Regions from separate parts of the Homo sapiens genome. Here all the other regions are linked to region 2. The links come from fine-mapping of genetic effects on gene expression. A gene starts in region 2. Each other region holds a variant in brackets. All regions are shown on one strand. Distances are between the middles of the regions. Region 1 overlaps MCF2L (MCF.2 cell line derived transforming sequence like). Region 2 holds the start of PROZ (protein Z, vitamin K dependent plasma glycoprotein). Region 3 has its middle 15 kb from the start of MIR8075.

Region 1 (10,956 bases), 110 kb before region 2:
TCTCCCAAGAGGTTTTCTGAGGGATTTCGTGGGCAGCCGGCTTCCCACCTGCACACATTAACGGCGGCGTCTCTTCCTCACTGCAGCCTGCAGGACGCTGGCATCGGATTCATCCTGGTGATAGACCGGCGACGGGACAAATGGACCTCCGTGAAGGCGTCCGTCCTGCGCATCGCAGTAAGTGCCACCCGGGGCTCTGCCCTGCGCCCGGCCCCTCCCTGGGCTGCATGACCGCATGGTGCCCTTCCTCTGTGTCTGCCGCAGTTCCTGCTTTGTGCTGAGTGGGACAGAGCCCAGTCCCGGCGGGTGGAGGCCGGCGCCAAGGCCCCCCCTGCTTGGGCTCCCAAGGCACTGGTGCCTGGGTGTGAGTTTTCCCAGATGAAGGAACTCTTAGGGAGCCCAATGTGACTTGCAAACAATTTCCCCAGGCAGAGCAGCCCATATGTTTCCGAACACCAAGTCTGAGATGCTCGGGACTGAATATGCCTCTTACATATTTATACATTAGTGATTTTCTCCTTTCCAAATCGGGCCATCTATCTTTAGCTGTGACACTGAACGAGCCACCACCGCCTCCCTTCCCCAGTGGGATTGAACATGCACTTCCTCTTACACAAAGCACAACAGTCCTGACCAGGCAGGACGGGGGCTGTGTGCAGAGACGCTCCAGGCTGGAAGTTGGAAGTGGTACTGCACAGCTTTCCTATGTGATTTTCTCCTTTCCAAATCAGGCCATCTAGCTGCGACACTGAACTAGCCACCACCGCCTCCCTTCCCCAGTAACCCAGCCTCGCATGTAGCCACCCTCCTTTCCAAGGACTTTCCCTTGGCATCCGAGAGTCTGTTTGCAGATTCTGCACGCTGCCTTCCATAGCAGAAGGGGAGCTGGGTTTGCTGTTGGTTTTAACCCAGAGTAATCATTTAAGAGGGAAGAGATTAAGTCAGCAGAAGCCCCCAAATCTTATTTTTGTCGGTAGCTCCCACCCGTATGCATGACCCCGGCATGGAGCATTTTTCACCCACGCTCGCTCTCCCCGCCTGTCCGTCCAAATTTCATTGCTGCCAAAGGACCAAAAAAGGCTGCCTGTCTGCCAAGAGGTGACCCAGAGCCTGGGTCCAGGCACCTGCATGTTCTCACGCCCGCCACAGCCCGTCCCTCCCAGGCTCTGGGACCCTGGGTCCTCAGCTGTGATGGCACAATTGCTCCAAGCATTCCCCAGCACCAAACCCCAGTGAAGTCAGATTCTCCCAGTGAAGTCAGATTCTCCTGGCCTTTCCTGGGTCCCGCGTTCAGACTACCTTTGGGTTCCCCAGCCTCTCGGTGGCTGCTGGCTGGTGCGCCAAGGTTTGAGGTATACTGAAAAAAGTCATTCCTTTCCCCGCACATTGCCTCATTCCTTCATCTTTTACAAGAATTAGAGGCCCCATATCTGCTCCGATGCCCACAACCTTCATCGTTTTGGTGCAAGCCTGTCCCTGAGCCGCTGGTTCTCATCGAAGTCTTTAGGATGAGGCATCTCCTTGCACCCCCACGGCACCTCTCTGCCCCTCGCCGCGGCGGATCCCCGTTCCTGACCCTGACTCAACCTGGCACACACCACCTATGGCATCGTTATCTGAAATAATTCAAAACGCTTCAGGATGCTTCCAAAAAAGTAGACGTGTATAGAATCGGTCTTCCTTTGTTTTAACAGTGCGTTCGTTTGCTTTTGCGTCACTATAAAGACGTACTTGAGCTGGGTAATTGATAAAGAAAGAGGCGTAATTGGCTCACAGTTCTGCAGGCTGCACAGGCTTAGCACCTGCATCTTCTCAGCTTCTGAGGGGGCCTCAGGGAGCTGCCAGTCGTGGTGGAAGGCAGCGGGGAGCCGGCATCACATGGTGAGAGAGGGAGCGAGAGAGAAGGGGGAGGTCCCAGACTTTTGAACAGCCAGATCTCCAGTGAACTTACTGAGCGAGAACTCACCCGTCACCAAGGGGATGGCGCTGAGCCATTCATAAGGGGTCACGCCCAGACTTAATCACCTCCCACCAGGCCCCACCTCAGCACTGGGAATCGCATTTCAACATGAGACTTGGAGGGGACAAAAATCCCATCCATATCAAGCATCCCCAGAAATGCAGAAAGTTCTTTAGATAAAAGCCATCACCAGCTAACAGCCATGTGTGCCTTTCATTATTGTACGTCTTAAATGAGTTTGCACATGAAGTCATAGGCAACTCTAAAAATTAAATCATAAGAACCCACGGGGTCAGACACACATGGACGGACAACAGATACTCTTGGGAAGCACCCATCCGTCCTGGGCGGGTCCCACAATGCTCCCAGCAGGCACGTCGTCGTTTAAACAACAGACAACACCGTTACAGCCGCATCTTTTATGCTTACCTGCCGCTGATATAAACCAGCCATCAGGACGACTCTTAGCAACACGTGGGTGTAGGAGTCGGCCTCCCTGCCAGGGCACTTGCGGTGTCAGGACGCACCTGGGTGCCTTTCATGCCCGTGGGGTCCAGGCACCTGCATCTTCACACACCTGCCACAGCCCGTCCCTCACACGGCTCATGCCTCACTACATGTGCCCCGTCCCCTCTGCTCACGCCTCGCTACGTGTGCCCCGTCCCCTCTGCTCACACCTCGCTACGCGTGCCCTGTCCCCTCTGCTCACGCCTCACTACGCGTGCCCCAGAGCCTCCGCTGATGCCTCGCTACGCGTGCCCCGGCCCCTCCGCTGACGCCTCGCTACGCGTGCCCCAGTGCCCTCGCACACACATCACCACGTGTGTGTCTCAGATTAATCAGTCACTCCCGGGTTAGATGACAAGAGCTTCCCCAGATACGAGGTTACTTTTTAAGAAATACAAAAATCATTTTCTAAAAGCAAAGTATTTCTGCGAGGTCACCCTACAGGATAGCGAAGCAGCCCACAGCAGACCCGTGATTTAGGTGTCGATCTTCAGCTGCCGAGTGTCCTGTTCCGTTCACCGAGTGTGTGATCGGATGAATTTCTTAAGCAGGTTGGCTCATCTTGAAAGCTCTGTCTTGTGAGCATCATAACTGAACAGTTAGTGTTTTAGTTTTTATTTTTGCATTGATTCTTACACCATAAAAATATGGCTTTTTCTGTCCTTCCTTTAATTCTCAGAATTGACCAACATTGGTTTGGAAGTAACAGAAGCCAGCATTTTCCAGCAAAATCACCCAGAATTCTCTCTGAACACCAGTGCTTTCTTGCTATAATAATTTACGGTCTTTTTTTTTTTTTTTTTTTTTGAGACGGAGTCTCATTCTTTCGCCCAGGCCGGACTGCAGTGGCGCGATCTCAGCTCACTGCAAGCTCTGCCTCCCCGGGTTCACGCCATTCTCCTGCCTCAGCCTCCCAAGTAGCTGGGACTACAGGCACCTGCCACCACGCCCGGCTAATTTTTTATATTTTTAGTAGAGACGGGGTTTCACCCACGTTAGCCAGGATGGTCTCAATCTCCTGACCTCGTGATCCGCCTGCCTCGGCCTCCCAAAGTGCTGGGATTACAGGTGTGAGCCACC[G/A]CGCCCGGCTTATGGTCATATTAATACACAGACTCTGTGTAGTTAGCACGTCCTGAGGCTTTTCTCTGTCCCAGGCACTGCCTGGGCATCACGGATGTGAGGGAGGAAGTGAGCAAGGCTCACCGCCAGCTGGGTGAGGACAGTTGAGGGGCATCACAATGGGGTCACAGGCAGGGGCAGCAGGGAGCAGCCAGGAGGGTGGCTGAGCCATGGGGAGGGGGCAGAGTTAGGCCCCACATGCCAGGCCCCATCCACCTGGGCTGTGACCCTGGAGAGGGCGTCTTCCTGTCCCCAGGCCCCTGCTACCCAGGAGCCCGCCGCCTCCAGAAGGGTTTGGTGCAGGAGGGGCATGAGAAACCGGCAGGAGATGATGATGGTGGACATTGGATGGGCCAGGAGACATGGAGCTCACAGCCCTGGTTTCATGAAGGAGAAGTGGGCCACAAGGCCAAGGAGGCAGGAGGCGGGCAGTGGTGGCACTGTCATAGGAGCTGGTTGTGCATGTGCTGAGGCTTAGAGGGTCACTGGTCAAGGGAGTGAGGGCAGCTGTGGACCCAGCCAAGCCTAGGTCCTGGGCAGACCAGGAGGGGTGAGGGTCTCTGCAGTGGGGAAGGGGTGGGTGGTGGGGCTGGCGGGGAGGCCCCAGGCTCTGTCCATGAGCCACGCACTCCTTGGAGAGGGCAGACCAGGGATGACCCCTTGGGCATCTTGATTCAGTTTTTTGGAAATGGTGCAGTTGACCTGACGTGGGGACACCAAGTAGTGGCTGCAGCGGGGCACCTGGACGCCAACCCCTGGGCTCCAGGCCTTGACAGCGAGCTTTGGCTGGCCTAGGCTTCCACCTAAAGTGGCTTTGGGAAAACTAGCACTTAGCAACAGTCCAGGCCAGCCGAGCCCTCAAGCAGGTTTCCAAACAGGCACAGGCTCCAGCTGCCCGACCCCACCAGGGTGCCCAGCTCATGGTGCTGCGGGCGCCACAAAGCAAGCCCGTGGCAGAGACTTGCCTCCAAGCGCTCGGCCACCGAGGAGGACGCAGCGCTTACATAATGTGCCGGGATCCGGGGCTATTTTTAGCCACCATATGTGCTGTCTTAAGAGCTGAGCTCTCCCTAATTTGGGGTGTTCTTTTTTCTTTTCTGGATGCCTTCAGCATGGCTTGGAATAGAAAAATTAGACATTGGAAGAGCCAAAATCCAGTGTTCCTAAAACCAGGCTCCCAATCGAGAGCAAGACCCATGTGATGCTGAGGGCGTGTGGGAGAAGGATAGGTTCACAGCTACCCACCCAGGGGGCAGAAAGATGAGATCCTCTGAGAACTCACGTCTCTTCTCCCTTAGGCAGTTGTGCGGTCCTCAGATAGAAGCATCTTTTATAAAATGCTGTTGCAACATCTAACCCTCTTCCACTGTACTGCATGTGTGAGTGTGTGAGTGTGAGTGTGTGACTGTGTGTGTGTGCGAGCGAGTGGGAGTGTAAGTGAATGTGAGACTGTGTGAGTGTGTGAGTGTGTGCGCGAGTGGGAGTGTAAGTGAATGTGTGTGAGACTGTGAGTGTGAGAGTGTGTGTGTGTGAGAGTGAGTGTGTGTGTGCGTGTTCACATTTTGGGAATTTGTAATAGAGTATATATATTCATGTTTAGAGCTAGCCTAAATCAAACTAAATCTAGATCCTCAAGTAGGTGGCTGGAGAAAGTGAATCTGATTTTTAGACTGCATGGGGCCACAACTCTCTTTCCTGTAACGCCGGTGCAGTCTGTGTGTGCAGGAAAGGTAGAAAACAAGGTGTCTGAGGGACCCCGGACTTCTAGGTCGTCCAGCAAATCTTTCACATTTGCAAAGTACGATTGTATGCGGCCCCCCTGTGCCAGCTACTGGGGCTCTGGGGAGGAGCTCACCGTGGGGGCGGTGGGGGCGGTGGGAGCCGTGGGGGCCGGGGCGGTGGAGGGGGGGGTGGCTGGGGGAGCGGGGAGGCGGGAGGAGCAGGGGGGGCGGGGGCGGGGGGGGCGGGGGGAGCGGGGGGGTGCGGGGGGCGGTGGCGGGGGGAGGGGGGCGGCAGGGGGCGGTGGGAGCGGTGCTAACTCCAGGAGGACTTCCCGGCGGAGGTGATGCTTGGTGAGAGCCTGACGGGAGGAGGAGTTGTCCAGATGGAGGGGGGCGAGGAGCTTCCCCTGGGAACACAAAGCAGCTGGCTGCCGAGGGAGAGAGGGCCAGGTCCGTGTGCCCCTCTCGGAAGAGGCGAGACCGTCCCCCAGGGCAGGGAACTGAAATGCGCGCTGCATAACTGCGGCGACACGGGGGTGGGGGACCCAGCTCTTCCCGGTGTGGCTGAGCTTTCTCAGAACACCGCTGCTGTGTGCAGCAAGCACCTGCCCAGGTGAGCACAGTCCCCCCGTGGTGGACAGAAGGGGACCAGGATCTGCAGGCTGTCTCCTCCGCACCAGCTGCTGTGGCAAATGCGTTTCAGCGCACCCTGCGCGTTCACCAACCGCCGATTACAGGGGAGGAGCTGGGCTTCGGGGCGACGAGGGAAGCTGCCGATGGGGTGGGGCGGCTCTGGGGGCGGCCTGGGCCTTTCTGTCTCTGAAGCCCGAGCTCTCTCCCTACTCCGGTGGTCCCAGGGCCACGGCGGTGGGCGGTGCCGGTCATGCAGAATATTGCAGGGGGAGGCAGCCCGTGAGGCTTCCACGACGCTGAGAGCGTCTATTTAAACGACTGTCCTTCATCCGAGGGTTCGCTCCTCCCACCTAAGGGTGGATTTGACAGCCTTGGGGTATCCAGCAGGGGTGGGAGATCCAGAGGCCCCAAGCCCTTCTTCACTGTGTATTTCCTGGAACATGGAATCCAAGGGTCCAATAACGGGCGGCACGAGCCACTTTGCTCTCTCTAAAGACCTCGGAGGCGACACAGTGAATAACAAGGTTGTCTTAGTCCGGGTCTGCTGCTTATATGTCAAGAGTATCTGAAACTGGGCACTTTACAACGAAAAAGAATTCATGCCTTACAGTTGAGGAGCCTCACCTGGTGAGATCCCTCTTGCTGGTGGGTCCTGAGGCGACGCGGGACCTCACCTGGCGAGGGGAGAGTGAGCCAGCCCAGGGCTGCCCCCGCTGCTTACAAAGCCACCAGGCCCCCACCCACCCCCACGACAGCCCGTTAATCCGAGAATCCGTGAATGGATGAATCCATTCATGAGGGTGGGGCCGTCCTGACCCAGTCACCTCTGAAAGGTACTGCCTCTCAATGCTGCCATGAGTTTCGAAGTTTGGTAGGGACGAACATTCCAACCACACCAAATGTATATTTCAGAATTGCTAAAAGAATCCATTTTAAATGTTCTCAGCACAGAAAACTGGTGAGTGGGTGAGGTGACAGATCGGTTAATTGGCTTGATTTAATCATTCCACTGAGGATACCTATAGCAAAACATCACTGGGTGCCCCGTAAGTAGATACAATCATGATTTGTCAGTTAAATGTAGAAACATTTTTTTAAAAAGATAAACAGAGAAAAAGAAAGAGCTCTGAGACCCGGGCTCGCTCAGCGGTTTTTTCTCGCAGAGAAGAGGAAGGAGCCCGGGGGTCCCTGGGACCAGGTGCCTCATGAGGCTCCGTGTGGGCCGTGGACCCTGCAGGCCACGCCGGCTTCCCTGACTGATAAACCCAGAGCCAGGCCTTGCCGGTGAGAGGCCAGGGACTGCTGGCTGAGCTTCTCCAGCGCTGCTCTTCACTCCCCTGGATGCCTGGAGCGAGACTATTTGCCTGGTTTATTTTTTTCAGCTTAGAGCTCGTTGCACGGAGTCAGAACCCCTGCATCCCGGTGGCTCAGGCATTTGAGTGAAGGTCGGATCAGGAGGGAGGGGAGATGCAGCTGCCCCACGCATGGAGGAGAAGAGCTGTGAGCTGCAGCAGCCTCGTGTCTTTTTCCTCTCAACTTTCAGTTCAGAAAAATTTCAGACCTACAGAAAACTTGGGAGAGTCTCACAGTGAACAAACCTCAGCTGTGGCCATAAACAAAGTGCCCATTCGTGTGTGTGTGTGTGCGTGTGTACAAAAACACACAGACATAGACACAGACATGTACACACATCACACAGACACATCACACAGACACAAAACACATCACATAGACACATACACAGACACACACATATATATACACATATACCCACACATACATCACATAAACACACACACATATCACACAGACATGCATACACTCAGAGACATACATCACACAGGCACAGAGACACACATCACACACAAACACACACATATATGCACATATACACACATCACATAAACACAGACACACACACACATTTTGCTGGTGAGAGCCGGCTCTGCCATCGTGTCAGTTCATCCCGGATTGCTGACATGGTGTCTCCTGAGTGGAGCTGCCCTCTGCATAACCACAGGCGAGTCTGCATCGCGGCCACACTGCCCTCTGGATGCCCACACATGGGGCTTTCTCCACGTGCCCCGTCATGTCCTTCCTGTATTTGTTAAAATCCAGGTCCAGTGAAGGACGGCGCCCCCGTCAGCTGTCCACCCTTCTCAGTCGTCTCTAATCCACCCAGTTGTTGGTTTTTGTTTTGCTTTCTGTCTTTTGTGAGATTGAGATTTGCGAAGGGTTGAAGCCAGTTGCTTTATGGAATATCCTTTCATCTGGTTTCCTTGTAATTAGGTTCCACGTGGTCCTTTGGGGCGGGAATCCTGGTGGGTGAGCTTCTGGGGCAGCCCGTGGAGGCCCAGGATGTCCATGTGTCCCGTGATTGGGGCGGTGTTGTGTGCTCAGACGGCCAAGGAGGCGTCCGGATTTCCCCAGGAGAAGGTGCCTCTCCTCTTGGTAATCAGTGGGTCATGTGTGGTGATGCTCAGGACGGGGCGAAGGTCCCGTGGCTGAGGTGTCCACTGACCGTTTCTGCCTGAATGGGTGGTTCGGTGGTGGTTGCCACAGGGCTGTGTTTTCAAGGGGAGCAGCAGGTGCCTGGCGTCTGCATCCACACCTGCCTGGAGCCTCCTTCCATTTGTTACTCTGTCTCCTCCTGTGTCCCTGCAGCTGTGTCTCCAGTGATCTTGCCTGTACTCTCCGCCTCTGCAGAGTGAGGTTTTCACTGATTGCAAAGTAAACATGCACGCCCCTTCAGGGTCCTGGTCCTTAGGGAGCTGGTTAACAAGTTGACCAGAAAAACAACCCGAATACTCCTCAACTCTTGATGGGAGCTCAGTTCACACGGCTCCGAATCGGCGAAACGCAACCAACGCTGGGCAGAACCTTGGCACAACTTTGCTGGTGTCTGCTGAGAAGCCGAGGGGAGGTTCTGGGGCTTGGCTTGAGCTGCGGGGTGAGTGTGGGAGAGACGGCGAGCTCCCTCCCATCAATCAATCAACAGACTGTCCTATTTTCATAGTAGTCCCCACCCAAATGTCATTCGAGTCCAATCTCAGGATCCTGGATGCACGCCTGTTCTCCAGGTCTGCTTCCCGTGAAATTCGTGGAGATTATTGTACATTCGGGAGTGGGAGTGCGATTGGATGTGTGTCTGCAGATTCTCCCTGTATTTTCTCCCAGGCTTTCTAGAGGACCATTTGCTAGAGGACCAGTCCCCAAACGGCCGCGCTTTTAGGATTGGTTTTAGGAGTGATGGCCTCACGCACACGGCAGCGGCCATTCTGAGCACTCGTGTCTGAACATCTGCAGGAACAGGGTCCACGCCCATTGTTTTCCTCACCCGGTCCAGCGTCTCTGATTCCGGCTCTAACGTCTTCTTCATCTGTTAACACAGAGACACAAACAAACTTTCAAATGCATATTTTTTATATAAACTTGTGTTTACTGTTTGGCTACTGTCAGACAAATGTAGTTGGTGAGGTTTCAGTTGCTCTGAAATTAAATATATAATGTCAAGCTGGATAGGTGTGGCTTGGAGCAGACCTTAAGGAAGGTGATTTGAACTTGGGGAGGGTTTTTCAAACAGGGTTCCCCAAAGTACCCAGTTCTACAAAGTTCCCAGCATGTCCTGTTGCTTTAGCTGCATTGGTAAATACATGCAGCGATTGTTTTCTGAGTCTCTAAGAATATTAACTCAGAAACCAGTGAACTCTTTTTCTATCTCCAGACTACAGTGCTGTGGTCATCACACATATCTGTTCCTAAGTTCATCCAGGTCAGCCCAGAAAATGAGCAATATTGTTTTCATGTTAGATAGAAACCTATAGGATTACTTTACTGTTGAGTAATTTACAAAAAGACTTGACAGCCTCCATCCCAAATTCTTCATCCAGTTACCATTTATACTTACCCCCATCTTTTAAAATAAAGTTTTTATTTTAGAACTTTCCCCAGCTTTTAATACAAACGGTCAACTCCAATTCAGAGAAAATTTTATTTGCTGTTATATTTATTCAAAGTATGTGTTTGTGTACATCGTTAGCACCTTCTCACTCAGCTAGGATCTTCCAATTTATTCTATTTAATATAATGATCCAATAACTTAAAATACGAAACCCTAAAACTGAGCCAAGGAAGAGGGGGTCATGTTTGATGCTGGCAGAGCCTCAGGGACCAGCCTTGCTGCAGGGGTATGCTTCACTCCCAGAGGCTTTAGGGGCAAATAGTTGCACCTGCTGGAGACGTGGACCCCCCCCCCCGCCACACACACACACACACACACACACACACACACACACACACACACACACACACACACACACACCTGGCTTCATCTCTGAGCTTCAGGCTCTCAGCTTGTCCTTAAAGATCCAGGTGATAAAAACGACAGTGAAACGTAGAAGAGCGTGATTCATCGCACCATCAGAAAAAGACTGGTTTTCCGTAAATAGTGGTGTCCAATTTCACAGCAGTGTGAGGGATTTTCAGTCCGCCCCTTGCTGAGACACAGAATCTGCCCTGGGGCGTCCCACTCTTTGGGGCTTGCTTCTCGAAGGAGGACTGCCCAGGCGCCTCGTCCACCAGGATCACACTCCTGGCAGATGCTCAGCTCACGATTCCCTGCTTGTAATTCAGCCTGTCCGTCACAGCATCTTACCCACACGTGCTCCCTGCAGAAGGTGAATGGCTGTGGCCTTAGTCTATGTCCAGGCGTCGTGTGAGATGGTGGGGCAGAGAGGGCGCAGATGCAGGGCCCCTCCAGAGCACTTCCCTGGGGGCCGAGGCTGGAGAGAATGGGTGTGGAGAGCAGCGGAGACAGGAGAGTCCCCCGGAAGCCATCAGCCTCCCCTCCCTCATCCACTCCGCAGCAGACACCCGCAGAGGACCTGCCAAGTGTGCCGGCCACTGAGGGCCGTGGTCCCTGCCCTCCCCACGCAATGCAGATGAAGCAGAGGTCTCCATGGGAGGGGTCCTGTGGGAAAGGTGTGCAGTGTCCACCCAGTGACAGGACATTGTCCA
Region 2 (10,956 bases):
TGGACGGCAGACCTCGGCCCCACCATCACTGTCATGGAGCCATCTCAGCAGGGCTGGGGGTTAAGCTCCCGTTTAGAAGGACCCCACTCCACAGCCACGGGGTAGCCACTGATGTGGGCAAGCGCCCGCCATGAAGACCCCACCTTGGTGGAAGGGCACTGAGAAACTGGACACCCTCGAGACTCAGAGGATCACCTCAGAACTGGCCTGTTAACTATGCCAGGAAAGCATGCCTTTAGCGTGGCAAAACCTGGGGACCCAGCCTCCTCCTGAGCCGAAGGCAGGGGGCTGCCAAAACACTGTCTAAGCAGAGCCCGATCCTGAGTCAGGCAAGTCCAGATGGAGGAAACCATAGACTCTTAAAAAACGTCAGCGTCAGCAAAGACCAGAAACAGCCAGTGACTCTGCAGTCAGTGAGACCAGAGGAGTCTGCAGGCTGCCAGGAGAGCGAGGGAGACTGCTGGGGGTTCCCGTCAGACAGCGCTCAGCGGGGGCGAGGGGAGAGGGAGAGAGGCAGAGCCAGAGAGACAAAAAGAAAGAGAGACAGAGACAGAGAGAAAGAGAGAGACAGAGACAGAGAGAAAGAGAGAGACAGAGACAGAGAGAAAGAGAGAGACAGAGACAGAGAGAAAGAGAGAGACAGAGACAAAGAGAAAGAGAGAGACAGAGAAAGAGAAACAGAGGGGAGGGAGTAAGTCCAGGTAAAAAACAAACAAAAAAATTGAGAATAGAACAAGAGAGAAACAGAGACATGGAGACACAGAGAAAGACACAGTGAGACACAGGAGACAGAGACAGAGAGAGATGCTGAGAGACAGACAGGGAGAGGGAGAGAGAGAGGAGACACCAAGACACAAAGAGGGCGGAGAGACAGACACAGAAAGAGGGAGACAGCGGGGCTGGATGGACGTGTGGCCGGGCCAGTGGGGAGGAGAGACGAGTCCGCAGACAGCGTTCAGAGGCCGCGCTGCCTGGGTGCTGAGCCGTCCCGGGGTTCACGGTCGCAGTTTGTCCTTACAAAACGCCCAGCCGCCCCGACCTGTGGTGCTTAGGGAGGACCTACCTGGCTGTGCCGGTCTGAGAAGGGGCCAGTGAGGCCCGGTGCGGGTACGGGCGGGTGCAGATGCAGCCAGGAGGACGGGCGGGAGCGGGGGCCTGTCCCACACGGGGGCCTCGGCAGCACCGGCATGGCTGGAGGCCAGTACGGCCAGGTGTGGCGGGAGGGAGCGCCGTCTGGCTTGGGTCGTCCATCCTGACAGGACGCTGCAAGGGCAGGAGCCCCGCGCCCCGTGTCCTGCGCCCCCGCTCGAGGACAAGCCCCAGCCGCCGGTCTCCGCTGGGTTCCGACAGGCCTTGCTGGGAGGCCTTGCTGGGAGCTGGGGGTCGAGGCTCACAGACTGCGCTGACCCCAGCAGGCACAGCTGGGTCCAGGGACTCGGGAACTCGCAGCCTGACGCGGGCCGGACCCCCGGGGTGGGTGCTGAGGGCCTCGGATGCCCTCCCTGGCTGGACGTTGTGGCTGTGCTGATACTGAGCGGTAACCCTAGGAAGGAGAGTCCCCTGGGCTCAGCTACCCGGGACAAGGTCAACAGGGACACCGGCCCCAGTTCCAGGAGAAAAACAAGCACGGCCAGCGGCGAGTGTGGGCGACAGCAGCTCAGGGAGAAGCAGATTATCAACAGCGAATTCACTCAGGGTCAGCCAACTGTACGCTTAAAAAAAGATTCCTGCGGTAAACTGTATGTCTATTTTACCACAATAAAAAACTTATTGTTTTTAATTACCAATGACTTCTAAAAAATGTTTTTAAAACCCAGATCACAAATCCTGAACATAGGGCCTGAAAGGCGAATTCAGCCACCACGGAGGACTCCCGCACCGTGGAGCCGGGACGCAGGGACTCCATGCTGCGCGGAGGGCAGGGGCACGTGACGCAGGGCGTGGGGGAGGCGGGGCGTGGAGGAGGCGGGGCGCGGGGGGCGGGGCGTGGGGGAGGCGGGGCGTGGGGGCGGGGCGTGGGGGGCGGGGCGTGGGGGAGGGCAGGGGCACGTGACGCAGGGCGTGGGGGAGGCGGGGCGCGGGGGAGGCGGGGCGCGGGGGAGGAGGGGCGTGGGGGGGCGGGCCGTGGGGGAGGAGGGGCGTGGGGGGGCGGGCCGTGGGGGAGGAGGGGCGTGGGGGGCGGGGCGTCGGGGAGGGCAGGGGCACGTGACGCAGGGCGCGGGGGAGGCGGGGCGCGGGGGAGGCGGGGCGCGGGGGAGGCGGGGCGCGGGGGAGGCGGGGCGCGGGGGAGGCGGGGCGCGGGGGAGGCGGGGCGCGGGGGAGGAGGAGGAAGGGTTCTGAGTGGACGCGGGGACTCCATGCCACGCGGAGGGCAGCCGCTCATGAGGCGGGGTGTGGGGGAGGAGGAGGAAGGGTTCTGGAGTGGCTTTTCTACTCCAGAAGTCTCCCCGATCCTGAAAGAAAATCTAGACAGGTGGAAAAAAGAGAAACATGTCCAGATAGTGTCTTCCACATTAATGGTCTCCCAAGCTCTGAGGAAGCCCAATGAGTTGAACAGTTTCTCATAAGCTTGCGGGTCCCTGTCAGTGCTTCTGAGATGCTAAAAACGCCAGGCTGTGGGCTGCGTCACCATGTGTCTCCTCTTTAATTTCTTCAGGAGCTCCAGGTGATAAGCTGCCACCTCCATCCACAATGTGGACATCAGAGGATGCAGCATGCTGTGGTTTGAATGTGTCCCTATAGTGCACGTGTTGGAAACTTAATCCCAAGGCAACAGTGTTGAGAGGTGGGACCTTTAAGACGCATTCATTGTCAGAGCCCACGTGAATGAATTGATACCACTATTGTAGGAGTGGGTTCGTTATTTTGGAATAAAAGGATGAGTTTGGCCCCCTTCCTCTCTCCCCTTTCTCTCTCTCTCTCTCTCTCTCTCTCTCTCTCTCACGCGCATCCACCTTCCACCATGGGATGACGCAGCAAGAAGGCCCTCGCCAGATGGGGGCCCCTGGACCTTTGATGTCCCAGCCTCCAGAACTGTAAGAAATAAATTTCTGTTCTTTATAAATTACCCAGTCTCAGATATCCTGTTACAGCACCACAAAGTGGACTAGACCACACTCTACTCTGTGAATCTAAGACGCACCATTATTGATGAACCTGAAAGAAAGAGCATATACCCAAATTAGCTGTGGGTCAGCTCAGCCTGGAGGCAAGAGGGGGAAGCTCAGATAATCTAAACCACAGGCCAGCCAGGAACCAGCTTTGCAATACATTTACACTATTCACATGGGCTCCCAAAACTCACACAAAAAAATGTATTTAAAGGGATTGCAAAGTGGCAGTGCCCCCAGGGGGCAACATAAAGCACAACCCCTTTCAGGAAGAACTCGGCCTTGTCCAGGCTGACATTAGAACATTGGCTGTAGGGAACAGGCCAATTCAGAGATGTTGAAATCTAAAACATAGGTCCCAGAGTTGATTGAACAGGTATTTAAATAGGGACTGCGGCAAGATCTAAGTATTCAATGACCAGGTTCTCCATAGGCTGCTCATTTCAGGTTCCACACAAAGTTGTGGGGTCAGTTGATTTAAGCTGGGGACCCCCACAGAGGACACCCCAACATCTGAAGGACACGACAAAGACCCCAAAGGAAGGAAGATTCTCCTCAGGTATACAGAAGGAAAGTAAACCAGTCAATGGAAAAAGTGTCCCAATGTTGGTTGGTTTGTTTTTCAGAACAGAAGAGGGTGACAGAAGAACGATTATTCATATGAGAGATGAGGAAGATGAGTAGAACGAGGTGAATCTTAATGTTTGGACAATTTATTATTGTAGAATTTTTGGTCCAAAGGTGGTATCTTTGAGAAGGCAGATGAGAAAATTAAATCACCACATACAACACGGTCAGTCCACGTACAACACAGTCAATCACAGCTGTGGCCTCGATGTTGATGCCTTCCTGTATTAGTCTGTTCTCATGTCACTGTGAAGAAATACTTGAGACTAGGTAATTTATAAAGAAAAGCGGTTTAATGAACTCACAGTTCCACATGGCTGGGGAGGCCTCAGGAAACATAATCATGGCAAGCAGGCACCTCTTCACAGGGTGGCAGGAGAGAGAAAATGTGTGTCAATCACAGGGGGAAGCCCCTTATAAAATCATTAGCTCTTGTGAGAATGCACTCACTATCACAAGAACCACCTCCATGATTCAATCACCTCCACCTGGTCCTGCCCTTGACCTGTGGGGATTATTACAATTCAAGGTGAGATTTGGTTGGGGACACAGAGCCAAACCATCCCCCAAAACTCACGTTGAAACCTAACCCCCTGTGCAATAGTACTAGGAGGTGGGGCCTCTGGGAGGCACTCTGCCTTCATGGATGGATGACTGCCCTCCCAAAAGAGGCTCCAGGGAGCACCCACATTCCTCCCTTCCACCATCCAAGGACACGTCTATGAATCATGGGCCGTCACCAGACACTGAGTCTACTGGAGCCTTGATCTTGGACTTCCCATCCTCCAGAACTGTGAGCACTACGTTTCTGTTTATCGTAAATTACCCACTCTAAGGTGTTTTGTTACAGCAGCCCCAACAGACTAAAATGGTCCATGAGGGAAGAGGTTGTAGCTCAGATACCCATGTCAGGCATATAGGATGTGCTTAATTAACACTTATTGATCGAATGTGTATGTCCCTGTCTGCCTTTCCATTTTTAGGCAGCTATTGATGGTTTTTAAACTATCCAGCAGAAGTATTTTTAATGTAAATTTCCATGTGGGAATACATTTTCACACAAAAAAAGGCACCTTTTCTTAAGTGAAGGCCACGTAGATTGCCAGGCTGGTGCAATTCACCCAAGAGCTATCCTATACAATCAACTTCTGGCTTTCAAATTATTTTAACTCACTCACTAAAGATAAACTTTATTTTCTTTTCCCAGCTTTTTAAAGCAAACTTCACAACTTCAGTGTATTTGCGGGCATGCCCTCTTAATCAAGGGTGTCAGCTTCTTAGTTTTCTTCTGTTCCCACTTTAACAAAATTGTATTTAGAATCCTTTCATTGAGTTTTGCCACCTTTGAGTGTCATTCAATCGAACAATATCTATATGCTGACAATGCTGTCATTTCATCTGTTACCACCTGAATCTCCACTGTGAGTCCCAGCTTCTCGGATGCCCACTCCTGTCTCCACCTGGACATCCCACAGACACCTCAAATTTGCCAAACCTCGCTTCCCTCTGCCCTCCTGGAGCTTGGCCGTCTCAGCACACGCACTGCCATCCTCCCAATCGCTCAGCCCAAACCTTGGAGCCGTGCTGCCCGACACAATTCATCATGAATCCCATCAGCTTTCCCTTCCTGAAGCATCCAGACTGCAAACGTGCTTCCTGCTGCATGGCTGCACCCTCACCCCCTCCTGGACTAGCCGGCAGCCTCCCTTTTGACTTCTCTGGAATGTTCTGTTCTCCACACAGCAGCCCAGTGATCCCTTCAGAGCACAAATCTTTCCATGTCAATTCCTGTTCCCTCCAATATCTTCCCAACACAGTGAAAATGAAACACCAGGTTCTTACCTCAGGCTTCAAGGGCTGATATGGTTTGGCTGTGTCCCCACCGAAATCTTATCTTGAATTGTAATCCCCATAGTCCCCACGTGTCCTGGGAGGGACCCGGTGGGAGGTAATTGAATCATGGGGGTGGTTTCCACCATGCTATTCTTGGGATAGTGAGTGAGTCTCAAGAGATTTGATGGTTTTATAAGGATCTGGCATTTCCCCTGCTTCAGTCATTCTCTCTGCTGCCACCCTGTGAAGAGGTGCCTTCTGCCATAATTATAAGTTTCCTGAGGCCTCCCCAGCCATGTGGAACTGGGAGTCAACTAAACCTCTTTTCTTAAATTACCCAGTCTTGGCTATTTCTTCATAACAGTGTAAGAAGGGACTAATACACAGGGCCTACATCTGAAAGCAGCAAACGACAACCCTGGGGCCAAATCTGGCCCCTTAATAGCTCTTATAAATAAAGCTTTATTGGCACACAGCCAAGTGTTCATTCATGATTGTCTATGCTGCCTCTGCTACAATGGTGCTGAGCTGTAGTGACAGACACTATTTGGCCCTTCCCCGCTTTCTCCCTCCTCCCTCCCTCCCTTCCTTTTCTCCCCTTCCTTCTTTCCATCCTCCTGCTTTCCCTCCCTCACTCCCTCCTGTCTCTTTCCCTCGTTCTTTTCTGTGTATTCCACACACACCTAGAACGTAAGCTGCATGTGACTTTGTCTGTCCCGCCCAGTGCTGTGTCCCCAGGGCCTATCTCACCTCCATTGACCACACACGGGCATGGGTGCCACCTTCCACCTTGCACCTGCTGCCTTTACCTTCTGTTCTCTGTCTCCCTAAATATCTCCCAGGGTCCTCTGAGCCTTCACCGTTCATTTCTCTGCCTGGCCTCAAACAGAAAACGTCAGGAGGGAAGCACACAGCTGCACAGGTCGTGCCCCGAGGCTCCTGCTGCCGGCACCTCCCCCAGCCTGGACTTTGGCTGTGTTTGTAGCCCTGTCCCAGCGCTCCGGGTGGGAATGGCAGGCTGCGTCCCACTGCTCCAGGGCCTGGTCCTGGTCCTCGCCCTCCATCGTGTGGAGCCCTCAGGTAGGCATCTGGCTTACCTGTCTGTTGTGCCTGTGCTGTGTCTTTCTTGACTCGGTCCATGGTGGATTTGTAGATGAGGCTTTTTCCAGGAGCCAGAGGAGCCCTGAGTGCCCAGACTAGTCTTAATTCCCCTGAAAAAGCTGTTTGGATCTTTATCATTTGGTGACAAGTATTTGGGACATGATAGTGTCACTTGGGGTCCTCCCAAGAGATGCCCAAATGGAAAGAAGCCTGTGTGCAGGGGATTCAGCCGGGAAAGGCCGGGGAGAGGGGAGGGGGAAAGGGGGAGGAGTGGGGGGAGGCCTGGGTTGGGCATTGGACGAGGGGAGGGGGTGGGGCAGGCTGAGCCCAGACTGCAATGTGGGCAGAGAGAGCCTTGGCCAGGCCAGCCAGGAATGCCCAGTCTTGAGTCAGGAGACATAGCCAGGGAGCAGCCACCCTGCCTGCCTGCCACCCTTCTACCACCAGCCACTTCACTGAAGGAACGACATGGACTCCATTCTGACTCTGCCTGCACAGGCGTCCAGGAAAGCTGCAAGTCAAAACACCCAGCATCCCCGCTGGCCCCATGGTCTCCCGCTGGCCCCATGGTCTCCCACCCTGAGAGGGTGATCCCCCCGCCCTGCCCTGCCCAGCACTTACCGTAGCCGGACTTAGCTGAGCCCCCCCTGCTGTAACCCTCAGCACCGAGAGAAAAGGAGGGAGGATGGGAAGGGCCTGGGCTTTGACCCTCCCGGAGAGGGAGAGAACATGCTTTGGGACCCTCAGGTGGGAAGAGGCTCCAGAGACCACTGCCGCGGGTCAACTCATTTGCCTTCTCCTCCTGGAAATCGCAGAGCCTGCTGCAATGTATAAGTTTCTTCTTTATGTGTTTTATCAAGATGTTAAATGCTGCGCACAGAGGCAGCACAGGAGCTGATGGCTCTTGGTCCCCAGTTCTCAGTACGGGGACCTTTGACCCCAGCTCAGCCTTCCTTCGCACTCAGACCCAAAACCCAGTTGGAGCCCTCCCTCCTCCACTTTCCTGACTGAGGCCCGTGGCCTCTCTGCAGAACCTTAGTGTATCCGCACTGATCCTGGGGCTGATCCATTCGCCCAGAGGATGAAGTGCTTGCCTACCTCGGGGGAGGGAGTAGCGGGGTGGCCCTGAGGCCCTCGCAGGCTGAGAGCCTGTGGAGACGGACGGGGCTGGGGCTGGCGGCCGGCCGGGGAGGAAGCCAGGCAGCTCTGGAAAGCAGGGCCCTCGGTGCTCCCAGTCACCTGCCTTCTTGTCTCGTCTGTAGTATTTCTCCCGGCCTCCAAAGCAAACGACGTTCTGGTGAGGTGGAAGCGTGCGGGCTCCTATCTTCTGGAAGAACTCTTCGAGGGAAACTTGGAAAAAGAATGTTATGAAGAAATCTGTGTCTATGAAGAAGCAAGAGAAGTGTTTGAAAATGAAGTAGTCACTGTATGTACCCCCACCACAAACCACAGGCCTCCTCATTATTTAGACTTCTGCTGGCCCAGGGAGCATCATTTCTCAGAGATTAAGCTTAATTAATTAGCCTATTTACTTACCGATGAGGTTGACACAATCCCAGTTTTACAGATGAGGAAACAATTTAGAGAATCGACTTAATCCACCTTTCCCTACAGCAGTGAGTGGGGCTGGAAGTCAGCTCAGAGCCCACTGGACTCATTTCTTCAGGTCAGGCAAGGCCCACACACTGATCAGACACCCAGCATACATTTTCTTTCTAGGCTTCAAGTCTGAATAATTCTCCTAATTTTAGATACTCCTACCCCAAACTAAGTGTCCCCACTCCCTACAGAGGTATATATCTTTAAAATTCAACTCGGTTTATAAAAAGCGAAAAGGTGATGTGACTTCTATATCATGTGCTTTTGTGGAGGGTGGCGTGGAGATTGGCCCTAGAAGGGAAGGGCCACGTTAGGGGCTGTGGGTGGTGGGTTTGTGCCATGTCATAGACTCTGGCCTTCCTCAAATAGGTGGTGGTAAGCACATGTTGAGTAATATATCTTACAGATACATTTAGTTACTATACATTTAACATAAACAAATAGGCTGTAAAACAGGAAAATTGTGCATTGTTTCAACCACTATTGTCCTATTAAGTGAATAAAATCAACATTTTCTTACCTTCAAGTTCATCTACAGGAAAGAATATAGAAAAACAAATATCCCATTTGTAACATTTTTATGTTTTAACTCTAAAGGATGAATTCTGGAGACGATATAAGGGTAAGTGGTTTCCTTCGTCTCCTCAGAAGTATTAATTCCTCGGGATGAGGTGCGTGGGTGGGCTTAGGACGCTTCACGACCCCAGCTCAGCGGATGCCAAGCCTCTGGCTCCAGGACCCACGGTGTCTCTCCAGGGAAGGGCAGCTCCGACTCTCCCCAAGGACCAGGTCAGGAAGCCCCCGGGCTCTGCCACCAGGGCCACAGGCAGTGCCTGGTTTGTCTTGCCCAGTGTCTGGGTAGTTTCTTGGCACTCTGGGACATGGGCCACAGGCCAGGAGGGCCCCCCCAGAGCAGCTCCTCCAGCCGCCTGGCTCCTGGGCTCCTGGGAAGCCTCATGCTGCAGCAGGGTCAGAACTCGTCTCAAATTTTGGAAAGTCATGGCCCCGATGGAGACTTTGGTTAGGAGACTCCTCCCAAGGGAGGAGCTCTAGGTGGGCAACTGCAGAAGAGCATGGGACAGAAGTAACACAGATGGAGACCCACGGGGCTGGGGGAGGCCAGGGTAAGGACCCACCTGGGAATGAGTAAGCAAAGAGCTGCAGCCACCACCAGACAAGCACGGGGACAACTGGGCACAGAAGGAAGCGGGAGAGGCAGGGAAGGCCGGAGAAGGGCTGATGGGGCGGGACAGAGGGGACCGCGTGCGGACGAAGAAAGGGCACCCAGCAGAGTGGGAGGCACTGGCAGCCAGGCCTTACATCCGGAGCGGGGAGCGTCCTGGGGGCCAGGCGATGGCATGGGGAGCAGCATGAGCAGGCTCAGTCCCCATTCCTGCCACCCCCTGCCCCCCCGTCCTCCTCCTGCTCAGGTCCCCGTCCCTGCCACCTCCTCACATCCTCCTCCTGCTCAGGTCCCCGTCCCTGCCACGTCCCCCCATCCTCCTCCTGCTCAGGTCCCCGTCCCTGCCACGTCCCCACATCCTCCTCCTGCTCAGGTCCCCGTCCCTGCCACCTCCCCCCATCCTCCTCCTGCTCAGGTCCCCGTCCCTGCCACCTCCCCACATCCTCCTCCTGCTCAGGTCCTCGTCCCTGCCACCTCCTCACATCCTCCTCCTGCTCAGGTCCCCGTCCCTGCCACGTCCCCACATCCTCCTCCTGCTCAGGTCCTCGTCCCTGCCACCTCCCCCCATCCTCCTCCTGCTCAGGTCCCCGTCCCTGCCACGTCCCCACATCCTCCTCCTGCTCAGGTCCCCGTCCCTGCCACGTCCCCACATCCTCCTCCTGCTCAGGTCCCCGTCCCTGCCACGTCCCCCCATCCTCCTCCTGCTCAGGTCCCCGTCCCTGCCACCTCCCCACATCCTCCTCCTGCTCAGGTCCCCGTCCCTGCCACCTCCCCACATCCTCCTCCTGCTCAGGTCCCCGTCCCTGCCACCTCCCCACATCCTCCTCCTGCTCAGGTCCCCGTCCCTGCCACGTCCCCTCATCCTCCTCCTGCTCAGGTCCCCGTCCCTGCCACCTCCCCACATCCTCCTCCTGCTCAGGTCCCCGTCCCTGCCACCTCCCCACATCCTCCTCCTGCTCAGGTCCCCGTCCCTGCCACCTCCCCACATCCTCCTCCTGCTCAGGTCCCCGTCCCTGCCACCTCCCCACATCCTCCTCCTGCTCAGGTCCCCGTCCCTGCCACGTCCCCTCATCCTCCTCCTGCTCAGGTCCCCGTCCCTGCCACCTCCTCACATCCTCCTCCTGCTCAGGTCCCCGTCCCTGCCACCTCCCCACATCCTCCTCCTGCTCAGGTCCCCGTCCCTGCCACCTCCCCACATCCTCCTCCTGCTCAGGTCCCCGTCCCTGCCACGTCCCCCCATCCTCCTCCTGCTCAGGTCCCCGTCCCTGCTCCACTCTGTCCTCCTCCTGCTCTGGTCCCTGTTCCTGTCACCCCACCCTCCTCCTGCTCAGGTGCTCAGGTCCCCGTCCCTGCTGCCACCCCCCACTCCATCCTCCTCCTGCTCAGGTCCCCATTCCTGTCACCACCCCCACCCTCCTCCTGCTCAGGTCCCCGTTCCTGTCACCACCACCCCAACCCCCATCCTCCTCCTGCAGGCGGCTCCCCGTGCATCTCCCAGCCCTG
Region 3 (10,956 bases), 120 kb after region 2:
AGATTGTTTTATGTTTTTATATTATTTCTTATTTTTCTTTTTAATAAAAAATTGTTTTTATTTTATTTCTAGAATATCTTCTTGAACCTCAAACTGTCCTCAATGGGTTAGCAGGAATTACACGCCGGGTTCTGGGCAGAAATGGAGTCATAACTAAGCATGAATCAGGCTGCACTTTGGCCCACTTCCTTGTAACTGGAAGTCTTGTAGCCCTGGATACTGATCATTTGCACCCCCATTATTCTCATAGATAGGACCACTGACGTTAGAACCATAAGGCTTTAAACATTGCTTAATATGTTTTTCAGATCCTCAATTCCAGCAGAACAGCTGACATCAACCAGTCAAAGGCTCCCACAGGGCGCTGAGGCGGCATGAGAATGCAGGTTCTTCATCCCCCCATCCCATGATTTTAGCCTGCACTCTTCAACCCATCAGCAACTCCCACACCTCGGCCACTCCGAAACCCTTAAAATCCCCAGCCCCAAACTCCTCTGAGAGGCGCGTTCAAGGCTTCCTCTGTCTCTTGTTCAGTTCCCCTCTGGGTGTTAAGCTCCGTCTCTGCTGCAATCCCCAGTGTCTCAGTGTACTGACTTCCTGCACATCAGGCAAATGATGTTAGGATTAAAATTACACACCAGTGGGGCGCGGTGGCTCAAGCCTATAATCCCAGCCCTTTGGGAGGCCAAGGTGGGCAGATTGTTTGAGCCTAGGAGCTCAAGACCAGCCTGGGCAACATAGTGAAAACCCATCTCTACAAAAAAATATAAAAATTAGCCAGGTGTGGTGGCACATGCCTATACTCCTGGCTGCTCAGAAGGCAGAGGTGGGAGGATTGCTTGAGCCCAGGAAGTCAAGGCTGCAGTGAGCCATGATGGCACCACTGCACTCCAGCCTGGGCAACAGCGCTAGATGCCGTCAAGAAAAAAATTGAACTAGTGCCTCAGAGAGTTGTCAATTTTTTTTCTTTAAGACAGGTCTCAAGCTCAAGCACGTGTGTTGTGATCTGGGCCCCCATTCGTCAGGCTTCTGAAGTCGTGTTTTTAGGCACAAGCCTGTCCCCAAGTCTATAGCATCTGGTGCACAGTGCTCAGTAAACACTGAGGAGTGAATGAAGCAGGGCCAGTGGAAGGAACAAAGACCAGCAAGATAAGAATGGGGAGAAGTACGAGTGTGACAGAACAAAAGAAGGGAGTTTTAAGGTATGGTGAGAATCAGAAACAGACCATCACGGTGGCATCTCGGGCCATTCAGTTTGTGTGCTGGGCCCGACGGGTAGTGGGTGCGGCGAGATGTAGCTGGAGGCAAGGCAGAGGCCAGGGAGAGCTGCTCTCGGGTAATGAGAATTGAGCAAGCATCAAACTGAGCAAGCAAGAGAGAAAAGGGGAGAATCTGAGCATACGGAAAGGAGAAATAACTGCGGGCAGGTTTCCCAAACAGCAGGGGAAACCACATCCCCGCGCAGCGTGCTCCTCCCAGGGAACAGAACAGGGAAACCACATCCCCGCGCAGTGTGCTCCCCCGGCAGAGGTCCTAAGGAAGCCGAGGGGCGGACAGCCGAGCAGAGGTAAGGCTTTCTGTGGTCCGTGATGGAGGAACCAAGGCCAACTGCAGCACAAGTTGAGGGAGCATTGTACTGAGAAGTGGACGCCTGCCAGGAGTCCACTCTTCACAGAATGAACAGCACCTTCAAGGCACTGGGATCAGCAGAGAAGCTTTAACACTGGCCAGGTCCCCCCTCTGCCAGGTCCTCCATCTGTCACTCTCCAGGTGCCCCTGAGCAAATTCCTGCAATTCTTTAAACCTTGGTTTTCTTATAAGTGGAGATAATAATCCTACTTACCTCATGGGGTGGTTCCAAGTGAACACACACAAAGCTGCTTAGGACACGTACTACACACCAGCAAAGAGGAATGAGTCACAGTCACGCACAAGCACAGTGCCTCTTCATCAGGAAAACCCAGTTCCATACAAATCTAAGTGGCTTATCTTCAGAAACATTAGTGAAGAGCTGAAGCAAACACTGTCAGCTGGGAAGTCTGTATTCAGTGAACATACATTTCTGAATGGAGGCAAAGTATGCCTTTTCAGACAGAGACCTCTAGTAGGAGAAGTGCAGGAGGAAGGAGCTTCAGCTGCTGGAAAGCAAAGCCAGATAGAAGCCAGGGTCTGCCGAAGGCCTGGGGAGCGCCCGCACTTGCAAGCATTTGGGTAGACACTCACACAAATTAGCTACACAATCATTATTTTCTTTAAAAACAACTGTTGAAAGCAAAAATAATATATGTTGGCATTAATACCATATGTAGAAGTAAAACGAATGACACGACACAAAGAATGGGGAAAGAAATGGTCTGGTGAGTGTGATGAGCTAGAGATGCGTGTGACAGCCCTGGGGGAAAGGGGAGATGGTCTAGTGAGTGTGATGAGCCAGAGATGTGTGTGACAGCCCTGGGGGAAAGGGGAGATGGTCTAGTGAGTGTGATGAGCCAGAGATGTGTGTGGTAACCCTGGGGCAGCCACTAACAATACCAGAGAGAGAGGCAAAGAGAGAAAGAACAAGCCAACAGAGGAGACAAAGTATAATTTGAAAGAACACTCAATCCAAAGTGTTGACAAAGAGTCAAACTGTGAAATATTTGAAGAGATTTATTCTGAGCCAAGTATGAGTGACCAATGGCTCATGACGCAGCCTCAGGAGGTCCTGAGAACATGTGCCCAGGGTGGTCAGGACACAGACTAATTTATTTTTAGGGAGACATGAGACATCAATCAAATACATGTAAGATGTACGTTAGTTTGGTCTGGAACAGGGGCTGTGGGAGGCTTCCAGGTTATAGGTAGATCTAAAATGTTTCTGATTGGCAATTGGTTGAAAGAGTTATTATCTAAAGACCTGGAATCAACAGAAAGGAATGTCTGGGTTATAATAAGGGGCTGTGGAGACCAAACTTTCACCATGCAGATGCAGCCTCCAGGTGGCAGGCTTCAGAGGGAACAGATTCTCATGAGGCTTAAAGAGTCTGTTCTATCAATAATTCCAAAAGGCGGTATCATGAGTCATGTCTGACCCCTGCCCCCATCATGGCCGGAGCCAGCCCTTCAGGTTAGCCTTGGAAATGCCCTCCCTGATACAGCGGTCCATTCAGATGGTCTGAGGGGGCTTTGAATTTTATGTTTGTTTTACAAAAGGCAGACAGGAAATTCTTTTTTTTTTTTTTTTTCAGATGGAGTCTTGCTCTGCCACCAGTCTGGAGTGCAGTCATGTGATCTTGGCTCACTGCAGCCTCTGTCTCCTGGGTTCAAGCAATTCTCCTGCCTCAGCATCCCGAGTAGCTGGGCTACAGGTACCCGCCATCATGCCCAGCTAATTTTTATATTTTTAGTAGAGACAGCGTTTCAACATGTTGGCCAGGCTTGTCTCGAACTCTTGACCTCGTGATCTGCCTGCCTCTGCCTCCCAAATTGCTGGGATTACAGGCGTGAGCCACCGCGCCTGGCCTGGAAATTCACTTTTAAAAGGGAATAAAGAACGGATAGGACAAATGGAAATGGAAAGAGGGTGGACTTGAACCTGACCATCTCATTAATTTATTGGTAACAATGACATAAACAACACTCCAGTTAAATGCCAAAGATTTTCAAGCTGTATAGAAAATTAAGACCAAAGTATATGCTGTCTACTACAAAGGCACTGTTATTTCAAGAGAGAGGATCTCACTGTGTCACCCAGGCTGGAGTGCAGTGGCACAATCACGGCTCACTGCAGCTTCAATCTGCCAGGCTCCAGCAATCCTCCCACCTCAGCCTTCTGAGTAGCAAGTGTGCGCCACCACAACTGGCCAATTGTTTATATTTTGTAGAGATGACATCTCACTGTGTTGCCCAGCCTGGTCTCAAATTCCTGGGCTCAAGTGGATCCTCTGCCTCAGCCTCCAGAACTGCTGGGACGACAGGCGTGCGTCACCATGCCCAGCCCAGAGAGTCATTTTAATAAAGACACAGATGAGTTAAAGGATGAAGAAAGACCACGAGACGCACGCAGCTGGCATTGTCTTCTCTGTACAACTGTTACAGCAGTTTCCAGAGCCTACTCTCTCCTGGGCACAAGGGCATTTCTTAAGGAAAGACTCCTTGCACCAGCTGCAGAAGGGGCAACAGGTCCCAAACAAGCAGATCACTGTGGGCGTGTTGGAGAAGCTGGTGAGGCGCGTGCTCTCTGCCTCTGGGAAGGTCTCTGATGAGCTTGCTCTTGTGCGTGCTACGGAAGATCAGTGTAAAGGTGGCATGGTGGATCTGCAGATGGCAGCTTATTTCTTCAGACACCTAAAATTATGGCAGATAAAGATGACTCTGTGACCACTGGGCTCGCACCTGTAATCCCAGCACTTTGGGAGGCCAAAATGGGAGGATCACAAGGTCAGGAGTTCGAGACCAGCCTGGCCAATATGGTGAAACCCCATCTCTACTAAAAATACAAAAAAAATTAGCCAGGTGTTGTGGCGCATTCCTGTAATCCCAGCTACTCAGGAGGCTGAGGCAGGAGAATTGCTTGAACCCAGGAGGCAGAGGTTGCAGTGAGCCGAGATCACGCCACTGCACTCCAGCCTGGGCAACAGAGCGAGACTACGTCTAAAAACAAAAGAGTGAGACAGTCATCTCAACCTGGTACAGAGAGAGCTTGGTTGCATCATAATTGAGGTTTCCAATGCAGTGCACATTCTTACATATGTTGGATTACCCAAGCACTGTGTGATTGGAAGTGGGTGTGATCTGGATTCTGCCACGGATGGATTTGGGGAGAACACAGTGACTCAAGTGTGGCTGTGTGGAGTAGTGTGAACGTGGCAGGTGTTTCTCTCCAGGAATTGAATCCAGAAATGGGAACTAATGATGATCAGGAAACTTGGAAGGAAGTGTATAAGATAGTGGTTGAAAGTGCCTGTGGTCATCAAGCTAAAAGGATATACCGACTGGGCTCCTGGGTGAAGTGTAGCTGATCTTATTGAATCCACGTTGAAAAATCTGTCCAGGGCTCACCCAGTATCAACAATAGTGAAGGGGATGCAGGGCACCAAGAATGAAGCCCTCTGGAGCCTCCCATGTACCCTCACTGCTCAGGGATTAA[A/C]CAGTGTTACCAACCACAGCTAAGGGATAATGAGGTTGTTCTGCTCAAGAAAAGTGCAGATACCCCGTGGGACATCCAAAAGGACCTCAAAGACCTGTGACTCCTAAGCTGTAGAAATTTAAAACCACAGTGAGATGAACCCTGAGCCTTCAGTGTTCATCCATATACATGCATCACCGTTTGCTTTTATCTTCTTCAGTATGTGAATTTGGGCTCACAGAATCAAATCCCATGCTTGATTTCATGCTTGCAATCGAGTCCTTGAACAAATACAATGAACCAAATGAACCATGGTAGCATGCTTCTTAACAAAAAGAAGAGAAGGCTGGGCGCGGTGGCTCACGCCTGCAGTCCCAGCACTTTGGGAGGCCGAGGCGGGCAGATTGCTTGAGCTCATGAGTATGAGACCAGCCTGGACAACATGGCAAGACCCCATCTCTACAAAAAAATACAAGAATTAGCCAGGCATGGTGGTGCATACCTATAGTCCCAGCTACCTGGGAGGCTGAGGTAGGAGGATGGCTTGACCTGGAGACAGAGATTGATTGCTGTGAGCCAAGATCACGCCACTGCACTCCAGCCCGGGCAAGATAGAGCCTTTTTTTTTTCTTGAGATGGAATCTTGCTCTGTTGCCCAGGCTGGAGTGCAGTAGTGCGATCTTGGCCCACTGCAGCTCCCGCCTCCAGGGTTCAAGCAATTCTCCTGCCTCAGCCTCCCAAGTAGCTGGGATTACAAGTGCCCGCCACCCACCACACCTGGCTAATTTTTGTATTTTTAGTAGAGATGGGATTTGGGCAGGCTGGTCTCGAACTTCTGACCTGAAGTGATCCACCCATCTCAGCCTCCCAAAATGCTGGGATTACAGGCGTGAGCCACGGCACCCGGCTGAGACCTTGTCTAAAGAAGAAAGAAGATGAAGAAAGACATACCATGAAGACGAATGCGAAAGATAAGAGTGGCTACATTCAGATCGAAGTAGACTTCAGGACAAGGAATCTCACCAGAGATAAGAGGTACCTTTCATAACGGTAAAACACCGACGTTCATCCCAAGACTTAACCCTAACTGGGCAGGCCTCTATTCACAGACCTCAAAATATGTAAAGCAAAAGCTGATGGGCAGACAAGAGCAACAGGAAACAGGCCTACCCATGGGTACAGCAGGAGTGCTGACCCTCTTCTTTCAGTAACTGAGAGGAGATAGCAGAAAATCAAGAGGGATAGAAAAGACTTGAAAAACACTCTTTGCTAATTGGAGCCAGTTGAGAGTCGTGTATCAGTACACTCAACAATGACAGTCGTGTAGCATTACACCCAACAACAGTCACATAGCATTACACCCAACAATGACAGTCACATAGAATTACACCCAACGATGACAGTCACGTAGCATTACACCCAACGACGACAGTCAGCATTACACCCAGCAACAACAGTCACATAGCATACACCCAACAATGACAGTCACATAGAATTACACCCAACAACAGTCATGTAGCATACACCCAACAACGACAGTCACGTAGAATTACACCCGACGGTCACATAGCATTACACCCAACGACAGTCACGTAGCATTATACCCAACAACGACAGTCATGTAGAATTACACCCAACAATGACAGTCACGTAGAATTACACCCAACGACGGTCACATAGCATTACACCCAACGACAGTCACGTAGCATTACACCCAACAACGGCAGTCACATAGAATTACACCCAACAATGACAGTCAGGTAGCATTACACCCAACAACAGCCGCACACACCAGGATGAGCACGGGTGGCTCATGAAACAAGGGTTAATATATTTAAAGGATTAAAATTATACAGAATGCATCCTCTGACCACAATGAGGTTAGATATCTAACAGAAAGATAACTAAATAACTAAACGGTTAGAAATTCAGCATAGGCTGGGTGCAGTGGCTCATGCCTGTAATCCTAGCACTTTGGGAGGCCAAGGCAGGTGGATCACAAAGTCAGGAGTTCAAGACCACCCTGGCCAAGATGGTGAAACCCCATCTCTACTAAAAATACAAAAAATTAGCTGGGCATGGTGGCGCGTGCCTGTAGTCCCAACTACTCAGGAGGCTGAGGCAGGAGAATCACTTGAACCCGGGAGGCGAAGGTTGCAGTGAGCCAAGATCGTGCCACTGCACTGCAGCCTGGGTGACAGAGTGAGACTCCGTCTCAAAAAAAAAAAAAAAAAAAAAAAAATTAAGCAATATATTTTTGAATAAATCTAATATAAAGAGAAAATTCTAAATAAATAACACACTTGTAAATCAGTAATCCACGAGTCAAAGAAAAATCACAAAGAACATTAGAAAATGTTTTGAATTTGATGAGTATGAAAATAATTGACCAAAAATTTGTCCGATGCACTAGAGCGTGTTTAGAGAGACATTTGTGGATTCAGATGGTTATATGATGCTGTAGACTAGTGTGTACCCCCAAAACTTGTGTGTGGAAATCCTCACCCCCAAGGTGATGGTATCAGGAGGTAGGGCCTTTGGGACGTGACGAGGTCGTGCAGGTGGAATCTGTGAATGGGATTCCTGCCCTTTTAAGAGCCCAGAGAAGTAGCCAGTCCCTTCCGCCATGCGAGGACACAGCAAGAAGGCACCATCAAAGATCCAGAAAGCAGCCCTCACCAAACAATGAGTCTGCCAGCGCCTCAATCTTGGGCTTCCCAGCCTCCAGAGCTGTGGGAAATAAATTTCCAGTGTTTATGAGTCACCCAATGTACAGTATTTTGTTATAGCAGCCAAAATGATCTAACACAACTGAAAACTACAAAACATGGTTGAAAAAAAAGTTGAAGACTAAAATAAATAGAGATGTATACCACATTATTGTCAAACCCAATATTAAGATGTCAGTCTCCTCCAAATTGATAATAGATTCAATCCAGAGCCCAGCAAAATTCTGGCTTTCTTTATAGAAAAATGACAAGCTGATTCTAAAATGTATATGGAAGTGCAAATAGTCAAAACAAATTTTAAAAGAACAAAGTTGGAAGACTTACTCTACCTAATACCAAAGACTTACTATAAATCAAGACATTGTGATATTAGCAAAAGGGGAGACATAGAGATCAACTGAGTTACACAGAGAGAATAAAACTTCATCCACTTACATCAGGTCAAGTTATTTTCAACAACGATGCCAGGCCAGGTACAGCGGCTCACACCTGTAATACCAGTACTTTGGGAGGCCGAGGCAGGTGGATCACTTGAGCTCAGGAATTCAAGACCAGCCTGGGCAACATGGTGAAACCCCATCTTTGCTAAAAATACAAATATTATCTGAGTGTGGTGGCACGCACCCGTAGTCCCAGCTACTCGGGAGGCCGAGGTGGGAGAATCACCCGCCCTGGGAAGTCGAGGCTGCAGTGAGCAGTGATGGCACCACTGCACTCCAGCCTGGGTCATGAGAGTGAGATCCTGTCTCAAAAAAGCAAAAACCAAATAAACAAAAAAATAAAGATGCCGAGGCAATTTTGACGAAAAAGCCAAACTTGTAAAATATTGAAAGAGGTTTACCCTTGAGCCCAGGAGTTTGAGGCTGCATGAGCCTATGATTGTGCCACTGCACTCCAGCCTGGGGGACAGAGCAAGATCCCATCTCAAAAAAAAAAAAAAGAAAAGAAAGAAAGAGAAAGACAGCAAGAAAGAAAGAAAAGAGAGAGAGAAAGAAAGAGAAAGAAAGAAAAGAGAAAGAAAAGAAAGAAAAAGAAAGAAAGAAAGAAAGAAAGAAAGAAAGAAAGAAAGAAAGAAAGAAAGAAAGAAAGAAAGAAAGAGGTTTATTCTGAGCCAATACAAGTGACCATGGCCCAGGGAACAGTTTCAGGAGGTCCTGAGAATGCACGTGAGGTGGCTGGGTTCCAGTTTGGTTTTACACATTTTAGGGAGGCAGAAGTTGTGGGCAAAGGCGTAAACGGATGCAGGTTAGTATACTTTGGTTTGCCTGGAAAGGCAGAGCATCTTGAAGTGAAGGTTGGAAGGGGCTTACAGGTCATGGATGGAGTCAAAGATTTTCTGATTGGCAACTGGTTGAAAGAATTAAAGACTTGAGGTCAGTAGAAAGAAATGCTTGAGATAGGATAAGGGGGTGTTGGGCTGGACGGGGTGGCTCATGCCTGGAGTCCCAGCACTTTGGGAGGCCAAGGCGGGTGGATTCGTTTGAGCCCAGGAGTTTGAGACCAGCCTGGGCAACACAGTGGATCTTGTCTCTGCAAAAAAACTCAGAAAATTTGCTGGGCGTGGTGGCACATTCCTGTAGTCCCGGCTACTCAGGAGGCTGAGGCAGGAGGATCACTTGAGCCTGGGAGGTCAAGGCCACAGTGAGCCCTGATTGTGCCACTGCCCTCCAGCCTGGGTGACAGAGCAAGACCCTGTCTCAAAATAAAATAAAATACATTAAAAAAACTGAAAGCTTGCTCTTTGATAGATACCATTAAGAAAACAAAAAGGTGGCTGGGCACGGTGGCTCACGCCTGTAATTCCAGCACTTTGGGGGGCTGAGACAGGCAGATCACGAGGTCAACAGATTGAGACCATCCTGGCTAACACGGTGAAACCGTGTCCCCACTAAAAATACAACAACAAAAAAAATTAGCCAGGCGTGGTGGCAGGTGCCTGTGGTCCCAGCTACTCGGGAGGCTGAGGCAGGAGAATGGCATGAACCCGGGAGGCAGAGCTTGCAGTGAGCCAGGATCGTGCCGCTGCATTCCAGCCTGACAGAGCAAGACTCTGTCTCAAAAAAAAAAAAAAAAAAAAAAAAAAGGCAAGGCATAGAATGGGAGAAAATATTTACAATACATAGCGCTGACAAAGGATCTGTGTCCAAAATATGTAAAGAACACTCAGAATTCAACAATAAGAAAATAAACCATTCTTAAAAATATGCCAAACATTCTATAAATAGACACTTCACTGAAAAAGATACAAATGGATATCAGACACATGAAAGGACCCTCCATGCCATTAGTTGTCAGTAAAATGCAAATGACAATCACGAGACACTATTACAAAGCTATTATAATTTTTTTAATTAAAAAGACAAATTGGGAGTGGTGGTGCACACCTGTAATCCCAGCTATTTGAGAGGCTGAGGTGGCAGGATCGCTTGAGGCCAGGACTTGAGAGCAACCTGGGCAACATAGCAAGACTCTGTTGCAAAAGACAAAAAAGAAAAAGAAAAAATTAGAAAAAAAGACTGACAATACCAAGTTTTGGCAGAGATGTGGAGACGCTGTTGTGGGGAACATGCAATGGTGCACCCACTTTGGAGAAACAGGTAGCAGTTTCTCCGGAAGCTAAACACGCACCTATCACACGCCCCAGCCATTCCACTCCCAGGTATTTACTGAAGGGAAAGCACGGATCCACAAAAGACCTGCACACAAACATTCACGGCAGCTTTATTTGTAACTACCAAAACAATGGAAACAACAACCCAAATGTCCTTCAACAGGTGCATGAGCAGACGATTATGGTAGAGCCAAACAACGGGATGTGCCTTCGCACTAAAAAGGGTGAAGGCATGCTGCATACAGCAACATGCGCAAGCCTCAAAAACATCACCCAAAGAGAAAGAACCTAGACACAACGAAGTACACACTCTGTGCTTCCAACAAAGTGAAATGCTGTGATACAAAACTCATCTCTTGTGACAAAGCAGACCCGTGGCCGTGTGGGTTTAGGGGTCGGGTGAACCGCAGAGGCCATGCGGGAGCCCTCTGGATTGAAGAAAATGTTTCCTATCTTGATTGGGGTGGTGGTTTCATGGGTATACATACTTGTAAAAATTCTTCAAACTG

What was found. PIP is the estimated chance that this variant, and not a neighbour inherited with it, causes the effect.
Region 1: its variant is fine-mapped to the expression of PROZ in uterus (GTEx, PIP 0.99).
Region 3: its variant is fine-mapped to the expression of PROZ in monocytes (Quach 2016, PIP 0.91).

The regions. Positions count from the first base shown.
Region 1 is chr13:113,045,185-113,056,140 of GRCh38, forward strand. MCF2L (MCF.2 cell line derived transforming sequence like) reads left to right here. Exons shown (of 30, transcript NM_001112732.3): 4 at 87-177. Among named protein-coding and RNA genes, the nearest start is that of F7, 55 kb to the right of the region's middle. RefSeq lists an enhancer at 5,300-5,886. The variant G/A (reference allele first, on the strand shown) is at 3,548.
Region 2 is chr13:113,152,081-113,163,036 of GRCh38, forward strand. It overlaps PROZ (protein Z, vitamin K dependent plasma glycoprotein), which reads left to right and starts at 6,568. Exons shown (of 8, transcript NM_003891.3): 1 at 6,568-6,650; 2 at 7,934-8,097; 3 at 8,868-8,892; 4 at 10,929-10,956. The coding sequence starts at 6,581. It overlaps LOC124903216 (a long non-coding RNA gene), which reads left to right and starts at 2,420. Exons shown (of 4, transcript XR_007063880.1): 1 at 2,420-2,785; 2 at 2,977-3,035; 3 at 3,737-3,800; 4 at 4,450-4,530. It overlaps F10-AS2 (F10 antisense RNA 2), which reads right to left and starts at 1,906. Exons shown (of 3, transcript XM_011537532.4): 1 at 1,834-1,906; 2 at 1,064-1,690. The coding sequence starts at 1,906. RefSeq lists a silencer at 2,287-2,336 and enhancers at 6,051-6,628, 7,205-7,782.
Region 3 is chr13:113,272,507-113,283,462 of GRCh38, forward strand. It overlaps the pseudogene LDHBP1. Among named protein-coding and RNA genes, the nearest start is that of MIR8075, 15 kb to the left of the region's middle. RefSeq lists enhancers at 1,476-1,975, 2,928-3,222. The variant A/C (reference allele first, on the strand shown) is at 5,129.